Linked DNA regions of Homo sapiens. The protein of the gene in region 1 interacts with the protein of each later gene in a pairwise test. Each region holds a gene or a part of one and is shown in the gene's direction. Other genes may lie near its edges.

Region 1 (4,588 bases):
TACATGGCACCATAGTATTCTGCACACATATGGCTACCACACGAAAGGAAAGTCTTGTAAAAACTTGGTGTTTACACATTTTTCCCTTTCTGAATGATTTCTGTGAAAATGAATGTATAAGGTTATGTATAAAATCTAGAATCCTTAATGTACCAACACAGATTCTGCAACAAAAGTTGCTTTATTTCACAGTCATGCAAAGTTAAATTTGACTACAACTATGATTTCACTTTAGGAATTACTGCAGATGGATTGAAAACTCATTTAATTATAATGAAGATATTGAAAAAAAACATACTGTATTTGCAGCTATCCACATGAGGGTCCAGGCAGTTTACAGGTTAGACTGGAAAAAATACAACTTCCTTAAAGCTTTGATGTCTTTGCATGGTGGCTTAATAGATAGCTGTACCTTAATTTTACAGAACGGAGAATTTTTAAAATCTGATTAAGAACAATAGTATTTGTACAAAATTCTGCCTGTTTTGTGTAATTAACCGTATTCTGAATCTCTTAATTTCCACCAAGACTTGTGAATCTAAGCTCTACTTGGTAGCCCTCTCAGGCATTTATAACTTGACAAGCGTGTCCAATCAATAAATAGCAACAACAATAATAATACTAAAACATCCTTTCCCTTAAGATAAGGTAAAAGAAGGAAACAGGTGATGGTTTCTTGTTTTGCGATGGGAGCAGGTGAAAAGTTAGAAAACAAAACTGCGAAAAGAAACAAAAATTCCCACCGACCTGCAGACATTTCAATTTATTTTAGAAACTATTTTCTTGTACACATATTCTTAAGTGCATATTTCCTTACCTCTTGCTTAAAGAAAAAATCAACAGAAAGCTTTATTTTCTGGACAAAGATCTATGTCAATTTGAGAATGTTAAAAAAGTGAACTCAAAGCTGTCTCTTTTGAATCACATTATGACATTCGTCAGCATCAATGACTTTCTCTAAACGAGAAAATAAAAAAAAAGTCCAAATAACTTGCCTTTATAAAGATTCCAAGTAAGAGAGACTTGGCAGGTCTGCGGTTGCCATAAAAAAGATTTCCCGAGTCCGGGCAACAACAGCAGACACACTTTTTTAAAGTCCGACAATGCAAAAGCCAAGCAATGAATTTCCCCCCTCCTTTCTTTTTCTTTTTCTTTTTCTTTTTTTTTTTTTTTTTTTTTGCCCCCTCAAGAACAAATTGTTGCCTCCTTTTACATCCATCCTACCAGAAGGGGGACCTTTCCACTTTCAGATGCTCCTCTGCTTTAATTTCTGAAGAGGAAAAAAAGCGAGCAGAAGAGCCCCGAGATCCGCCGTGGAGCTCTAATAACGCAGCTGCGGCGGCGGCGACGGCGGCGGCGCGGGGTGTGCGAGCGGCCGGGCGGGCGGCGCGAGGGGCGGCGGCGCAGGAGCGGGCGGGGCGCGCGGCGCGTGGGAGGCGGCGGCGGCGGCGGCGGCGGCGGGCGGGGCTCGGGGCGCTCGGCCGCCGCCTGGCTCCGGATCCGCGCGCCGCGGCCGGCGCCTCCAGTCCGGGTCTTGGCGGGCCCCCTCCTCCCTCCCGCTCCCCGCGCTCTCGCCTTTTAATCATGCCCCTCTGTCTGTGTGTGAGTGCAGGCAGGCTGACAATGATTTCCTCAGTGATTACGTACAGAGCGAGTCCCTGCGGGTTAGGGGCCCCCTCTGGAGCCATCCTGATGGCTTTGGGGGCCTTGCTTCCATTTTCCATTATTATGTGGACTACCGGAGCGACAGCGCAGTCCAAGACCTTGCAGGTTTGTGATGAGGAGGGAGCACACAGCACACTCCTTCTCCTCCTCCTGCTCCCGGCTCTCCTCCTCCTCCTCCTCCTGCTCTCGCCGCCGCTGCCGCCGCCGCTGCCGCCGCTGCTGCCGCCGCCGCTGCCGAGGCAGCCGTAGACTTTAGAGCCCCGGTCCAGCGCCAGCCGCCGGCGCCGCGCCCCCGCCCAGAGAGGGGCGCCCCGAGCCCGGGCCCCGCACACCCCCTGCACACAAGCAGCCCCGCACACCACCTGGGGGCCGTCGGCTCGGGTGCTTTGGCTTTTTCTTTTTGAAAGAAATTACTTTAGTGTGGGTTAAGAAAAAAAGGGTGGGGGGAAGGGAGAAAAAAAGTATTTTTTTCCCTTTGCTTATTTTCGTGGCCCGTTCGCATCTGCCTCGGATGGTGGGAGATTTTTCTTTCCAAGACCTTTTCATCGCCTTGCAGGGTCGATTTCCCCCCCTCGTCCCCCCAACTACAAAAGAGCACGACTCGCTTTGTAAACAAATCAGTGTTATTTGTTTTTTTCCGGTGGGGGGGGGGGCGGATTTGTTGAAAAGGAAAAGCGGTAAAGAAAAAAAAAATCACCCAGACGCTTTTCTTTTTATTAGTTTTTTTCTATTCGCATGAACTATGTGAATTTTGATTGAGGTGGAAATAGTAACGGATTTTCTCTTTTTAGTGTAGCTGACGGCTCTTCAAACATTGTCTTTGGGGTTTTTTTTTTAGCTTTTTTTCCCTCCTTTCCTTTTTTCTTTTTCCTTTTTTTTTTTTTTTCTTGGAGATTGGGGGTGGGGGTCGAAGGCTGGGAAAGTTTGGTGCAGCAGCCGCCGCCGCCGCCGCCGCCGTCGTGCAGAGCGCGGAGCTCGGGCAGCCGCGAGCCCCGCGCGCGAGCGCGAGCCGGAGCCGGAGCGAGGAGCGGAGCGCGGAGCGAGGGCGCGAGGGAGGCCGAGCGGAGGGCGCGAGGCGCCGCGGCCCGAGGGGCGCGCGGCCACGAGGAAGTATAGTTTCTTTCAGGGCTGAATTGAAACAACTTCAGCTGTTTGCTTTTAGGATGTCTCGCCGCAAGCAAGCGAAACCGAGATCCCTCAAAGGTAAGGAGGAACCCCCTGCTCCCCGCTTTCCCCCATCCGCGAGTGTCACTGTGGGTAGCGGAGCGAGGGCTGCGTGGCTGCGAGGCGTGTGCGCGCGTGAGTGTGAGTGTGAGTGCGGGGGCGCGCGCGCTCCCCTCCCCGCTGAGCCCCTAGGTGGAGTGAGGGTGAGGTGTCGGGGTGGGGGGAGACGAAGACGGGAGGAGGATCCCCGAATGGGGCGGCGGTAGAAAGTGGGCGAGAAAAGACAACAACAACCGAAAAAAAAAAAGAGAGAGAGAGAGAAAGAAACGAAATTATCCGGAGAGGGAGGAAAAAAAAATATCCCGTCTGAGATCTACATCTGGGCTGGAGGAAAAAGTTTCTGTTGTGTGTTTTCGCAAAGAATAAATATGCAAAACCGTGCGGTGCTTCTTTTTTCCTTTTCTTTGGAAGAAGAAAAAAGTCATCTCGGAGGTGGGGAGCAGCCCCCGCTCGTGACAAACGTGGCCCGGGGTCCCGGCCGCCGCCTCCCGCCCGCCCGCGTCCTGCTTGGGTCCTCTCCGCACGTCGCCGGAGTAAACAGACCCCGGCCGCCGGCCGCGGGCACCGGACCCCGGCTCGGGCCTCAGAGCACCCCTCTTGGCCATTCCCAGAAGTTGACCGCCCCTCGCCCCTACTTCTCCCCGCCGCCCCTGGAGTCCTTTGCGTTTCGCGGTGGGGTCCAGCTCTCCGTCGTCCCTGTTGGAGAGGGAAGTTGCGGGGCGTGCGTGCGGGATTTTGGGGGCGCACTAGCTGGCTGCGGCGGGGGCGGGGGTCCCTGAAGTTATCGATCTGATGGCTGTGTTGGAATGTGGCGAGGAGAGTCACGTGGCGGCCTCCTCCTCCTCCTCGGCCGCCTCCTCCACCTTCGCGAGCCTCCTTCCGAGGAAATCGGGGGCGGGCGGCCGAGGGGAGCCGCGAGGTCCGGCGCTCCGAGGCGGAGAGCGGGGAGGGCGGGCGGCGGAGCGCGAGGGCCGGAGGAGGGGCGCGCGGGCAGGACGGGGAACCGGGGCGAGGGCCAGGGGGCCAGCGCTGGAGGCGGCCGCGGCCCCCGCGACCCGGAGGCGGAGGACAAAGGGCGGCTGGTGCGCCCGCCCGGGCCCGCTGGGTCCCGCCGAGGTCCGCGCGGCCCGGCCCCGCCCTCTGGTCCCCGGCGGCGCAGCATCCTCTTCCTCCTGGCTGCCGGGCCGCGGCGCCCCGTGGCCCCGGTTCCCGCACCAGCTTCCCGACTCGCCGCCGGCCCGGGGAAAAGGGGTGGGCAGGGCCCGGCGCCCCACGCCTCCCGGCCCCCGGCCGCTGTGCATTTTTGAACTCGATGAACGGAGCCCTCACCGCACACACAAAGCCCTTTCTTTCTTCTCCTGGGAAGGGACGGGGTGGGGGAGGGCCTCGCAGATTGGAACGCTTGCTTTTTTCCTAAAGCGCAGAAGTTTTAGTTCGGGAACGAGGTGAATCATTGGCATGTGTCTCCACACAGTGTGTCTGGTGGTTTCCGTCACATGGGCCCCTCATTTTTCTGGGGGAAACCTAGACCCAGGGCCTGAAAGATCCAAGTGTCGACAGTGAAAAAAGAAACGCCACGGGCGTGCGCGGGTGTCAGGGTAACGGTGGACCAGGCTCGCGCCGGCGAGACTTGCCCGAGACCCCGGCTTTCTTGAAAGTAACGCTGAGCGAAGTACCAGGACAAACCTCTTCCTAGTCA
Region 2 (3,648 bases), on another chromosome or scaffold:
GGTTTGAAGTGGGGTTCTGTACCGTCTGCTCCCATGATGCCTCTTAAGTCCACCTCTTCCTTTCACTTCCACAGCTGTGGCTTTCTTTAAGGCTCTCCTGTAGCCTTTTGCATTCTGATGCCCACTGGGGGTCCTGCCAGTCAATTCAATTCCGTTCTGACACTAACTACTCAGAGACAGCACAGACCCCACAGGTCAAGGGCAGATCCTTCAATTCTGACACTAACTGCCTGGAGTTAGCATCAGACCTAAAAGTTAAAGGGTGAGATCACCAACAAGACTCCTCTTATTTCAGACACCAGCTGCACGTGAGGTCCCCAGGCCACCCATACTTGTGTCCAGCTTGACTACAAATTTGGAGCTTCCCACAACGCCCCCACTGATGTGTGTCACCCGGCACATCAACGTCTTCACCAATCAGGAAGCTTCACTGAGCCATGATGTCTGGGATTTTTATAGCGTTTTTGTTCAGTAGGCATGATGGCTTAAACCACTGGCCACGTGTTTGATCCCAACCTCTAGCGCCTGGAGGTGGAGGAAGGGAGTGAGGCCGAAAGCTCCAACCCTCTAATTATGTGCTTGGTCTCCCAGGCACGGCCAGCCCCTTCCTTGAAACCCAGCGCGGACTACAGGTTACTGTATTAGCACAAGCTCAGGTATGGTGAGAAGGGGCTCGTTATAAATAACAAGACACTCCTGTCACTCAGGAAATTCCAAGAGTTTTGGAGCTCTGTGCCTGGAACTGAGTAGCAAAGACCAGATATATTTGTTATTTCATCACACCTTCCTCTGTACTCTTCAGAGCCTGCTACCTGGTCTCCCTCCAACTAGGTCTGTTCTTTTTTTTGAGGCAGAGTCTTATTCTGTTGCCCAAGCTGGAGTGCAGTGGCACGATTTTGGCTTACTCCAACCTCTGCCTCCCAGGCTCAAGCAATTGTCCTGCCTCAGCCTGCTGAGTAGCTGGGACTACAGGCACCTGCCACCACGCCCAGCTAATTTTTGTATTTTTAGTAGAGACAGGGCTTTGCCATGTTGGCCAGGCTGGTCTCGAACTGCTGACCTCAGGTGATTTGCCCACCTCGGCCTCCCAAAGTGCTGGGATTACATAAGGTGTGAGCCACCACATCTGGCCAACTAGGTCTGTTCTATATCAGCTACAAGATAAATCTCTCAACATTACCACTCCTTCCCAGAAAAGGCAGTCGCTTCCCGTGGCCTAACAGAGGAAAGGTGAACTCTTCAGCCTGGCTTTTGTGGCCATTCAAAAACAAACTTCAGCTGATCCAGCTAGAGCTGGCCTCATCTTCTCTCCTTCCTGCCCCATGCTGAGGGGGCTGGCGCCTGCTTTTCTTTGTTTCAGCTTGTCCTGAAGCACCTGCTGCCATCTGTACCTTTTCAGCCCATCTGCATTTCGAGGCCCACCTGCGGTGCCTGCTCCCCCTGCCGTATCTCCCGATCCTCACTGCCATCTGTGCTGCCAGCATTGGGCTCTTTCTCCTTTGAGAATTCTTTGCACTTCATTGTACTCCATGCTCAGTGCTGCTCACCGTCTGCTTTATAATACAGGCCACGGTGTGCTTCGCTCAGCCCCTGAAATAGATGGTAGTCACTCTGGGAGCAAGAACTGTTTGATTTCTTTTTGTTGCTCTGGCAGTATCTGGCAAGGGTCTTGTACAAGATCTTGATCGAATTTATGGAAGTGATTAGCCACACTGTAGATAACGATGGCTTTCTGCTTGCAGAAACAAGTGGAAGCCGGTGTCTGTGTTACCATGGAGATGGTGAAAGATGCCTTGGACCAGCTTCGAGGCGCGGTGATGATTGTTTACCCCATGGGGTTGCCACCGTATGATCCCATCCGCATGGAGTTTGAAAATAAGGAAGACTTGTCGGGAACACAGGTACGTAGTTTGTGAGTGGGTACTCTGGAGGTTGAGTTCCTGGCCCCCAAAGCCCTTAAGATTTGATGCCCCTCTTCTGGATGTAGTGTTTTGCTCCCTACACAGCTTTCAGGTTTGCTATGCCCTGCTTCAGAGCAGAGTTCTGAATTCAGGAGCAGCCCCTGAGAGTGGGTACTCATGAGTGAGGGGTTTGGCCCCACACACAGGAGGCAGTGGACGCAGTTTGTGAGGCCGCTCATCAGGAGTGACTGCAAACATTTCCACTGTCTTTGGCTGCTAGGAAGCCAGCTACCTAATTTCTTCCTATTTCTACCCAAATGCGTCAGTCCCTTTGCATGGAAATTTGTGTTTCTAGTCTTACCTGTTGCTTCATGTTATTTTCTGACCCTCATGTTCCATTTTCCTTGGGTTTTCTCACTTCTTATCCTATTGGACAATATTCTTTGTCTAAGCCATGTTAAATAAATGAAATATGCAGAAGTAAACAGGCAGCCCCTTTATACCTCGATTTAAACACCCAGCACGATGCCAGTGCCCTTCCCTGGCAGTGGCCTACAGATCTGTCTAAGACGAACTATATGGATCAAGGTGCAAATGAGATAGGATCTCCCTGTTGTCCAGAGGAGGAAGTTAACTGAGTCAGGGCATGAGTGGAAACTTAACAGGGAAGGTACTAAAGTCAGCAAGGACTTAGAGTGAGGTGCGGGAGTCAGGCCTCCCATGGTGAGCACGGGGAGAAATCTGTCCCCTGCCCCCTGCTGGGAGGGGCTCAGCTGGGCTCTGCCCCCTGGGTGGGAACACACAGTCAAGCCATTCTTACGACTGGCCCCAGGCAGGGCTCAACGTCATTAAAGAGGCAGAGGCGCAGCTGTGGTGGGCAGCCAAGGAGCTGAGAAGAACGAAGAAGCTTTCAGACTACGTGGGGAAGAATGAAAAAACCAAAATTATCGCCAAGATTCAGCAAGTAAGTACTTTTTGCTTTAATGTGTCAGTAGTTTTTGTTATTTCCCTTCAAACTGATAAAAATGTACAGTGAATCCGAAAGATTTAAACTACTGGTACAAATATTTTAATCTTATTGGCTCGGGTTTAAACTAAAAATATCCTCTTCCTGCACACCAACAAAAACTGGAAGAAAATATGGATTGAGTACCAATATCTAGAGTTTGTTTTAATATGTGGGGGAGAGGAAATATACTATGTTAATTTCAAGCGTAAAAATAGGGCTGCAAGTAAACAGATATGTTCCTTGAAATGTAAAATTTCGCCCGTCACTGATTTCAGGCTTTTTCAAACTGCTGATGCTGTGTACAGGAGGGGGAGGAGGAAAGGTTCGAGACCTTTGAAGGACATCGTGTAGCGCTGTAACCTGAGGGGCCGCCTTGGTTTTGTGGGTGCTCCTACGTCACTAGGCTGTGATTTTGGGGAAATGGGGCCCTCCACCTTATGTAGATCCAGAGTCCGTGGCTCTGAGCATCCTCCCTTTCCCACTGGACCTGCCTGCAGTGTCTGCCTTGGGAATGGTCAAGACAGAGATGGTATCGTGCAGCCTCTGGTCTCCACACAGTGAGAGTCCAGGGCTCAGGGCTGCTCAAGACCAAGGCTTCCCTTGATGCTTCACTTCGGGTGATCAGACATGGGGGACCTGTTTATCTTTAGTAGCCGGCAAAGGCAATCGTAAAACATTTGTTGTAACTTCAGGATTGTCACTCTAAGAACACCTTAATCCACAATTTGCTCTGCTCTC

Evidence for each region.
Region 2: the proteins of ZNF521 (region 1) and CFAP298 interact in a two-hybrid assay, tested with the Homo sapiens proteins (one large-scale study listed by BioGRID and IntAct).

What each region holds. Positions count from the first base shown.
Region 1 is NC_000018.10:25,349,187-25,353,774, reverse strand, and holds the start of ZNF521 (zinc finger protein 521), read left to right. Parts: upstream 1-1,608; 5' UTR 1,609-1,770; intron 1,771-2,827; 5' UTR 2,828-2,828; coding exon 2,829-2,868; intron 2,869-4,588. UniProt on the Homo sapiens protein: Transcription factor that can both act as an activator or a repressor depending on the context. Involved in BMP signaling and in the regulation of the immature compartment of the hematopoietic system.
Region 2 is NC_000021.9:32,602,378-32,606,025, reverse strand, and holds part of CFAP298 (cilia- and flagella-associated protein 298), read left to right. Parts: intron 1-1,742; coding exon 1,743-1,901; intron 1,902-2,733; coding exon 2,734-2,865; coding exon of another isoform or gene 2,866-2,937; exon of another isoform or gene 2,938-3,648. Other genes in the region: CFAP298-TCP10L (uncharacterized protein LOC110091775), read left to right, coding at 1,743-1,901, 2,734-2,865. UniProt on the Homo sapiens protein: Plays a role in motile cilium function, possibly by acting on outer dynein arm assembly. Seems to be important for initiation rather than maintenance of cilium motility.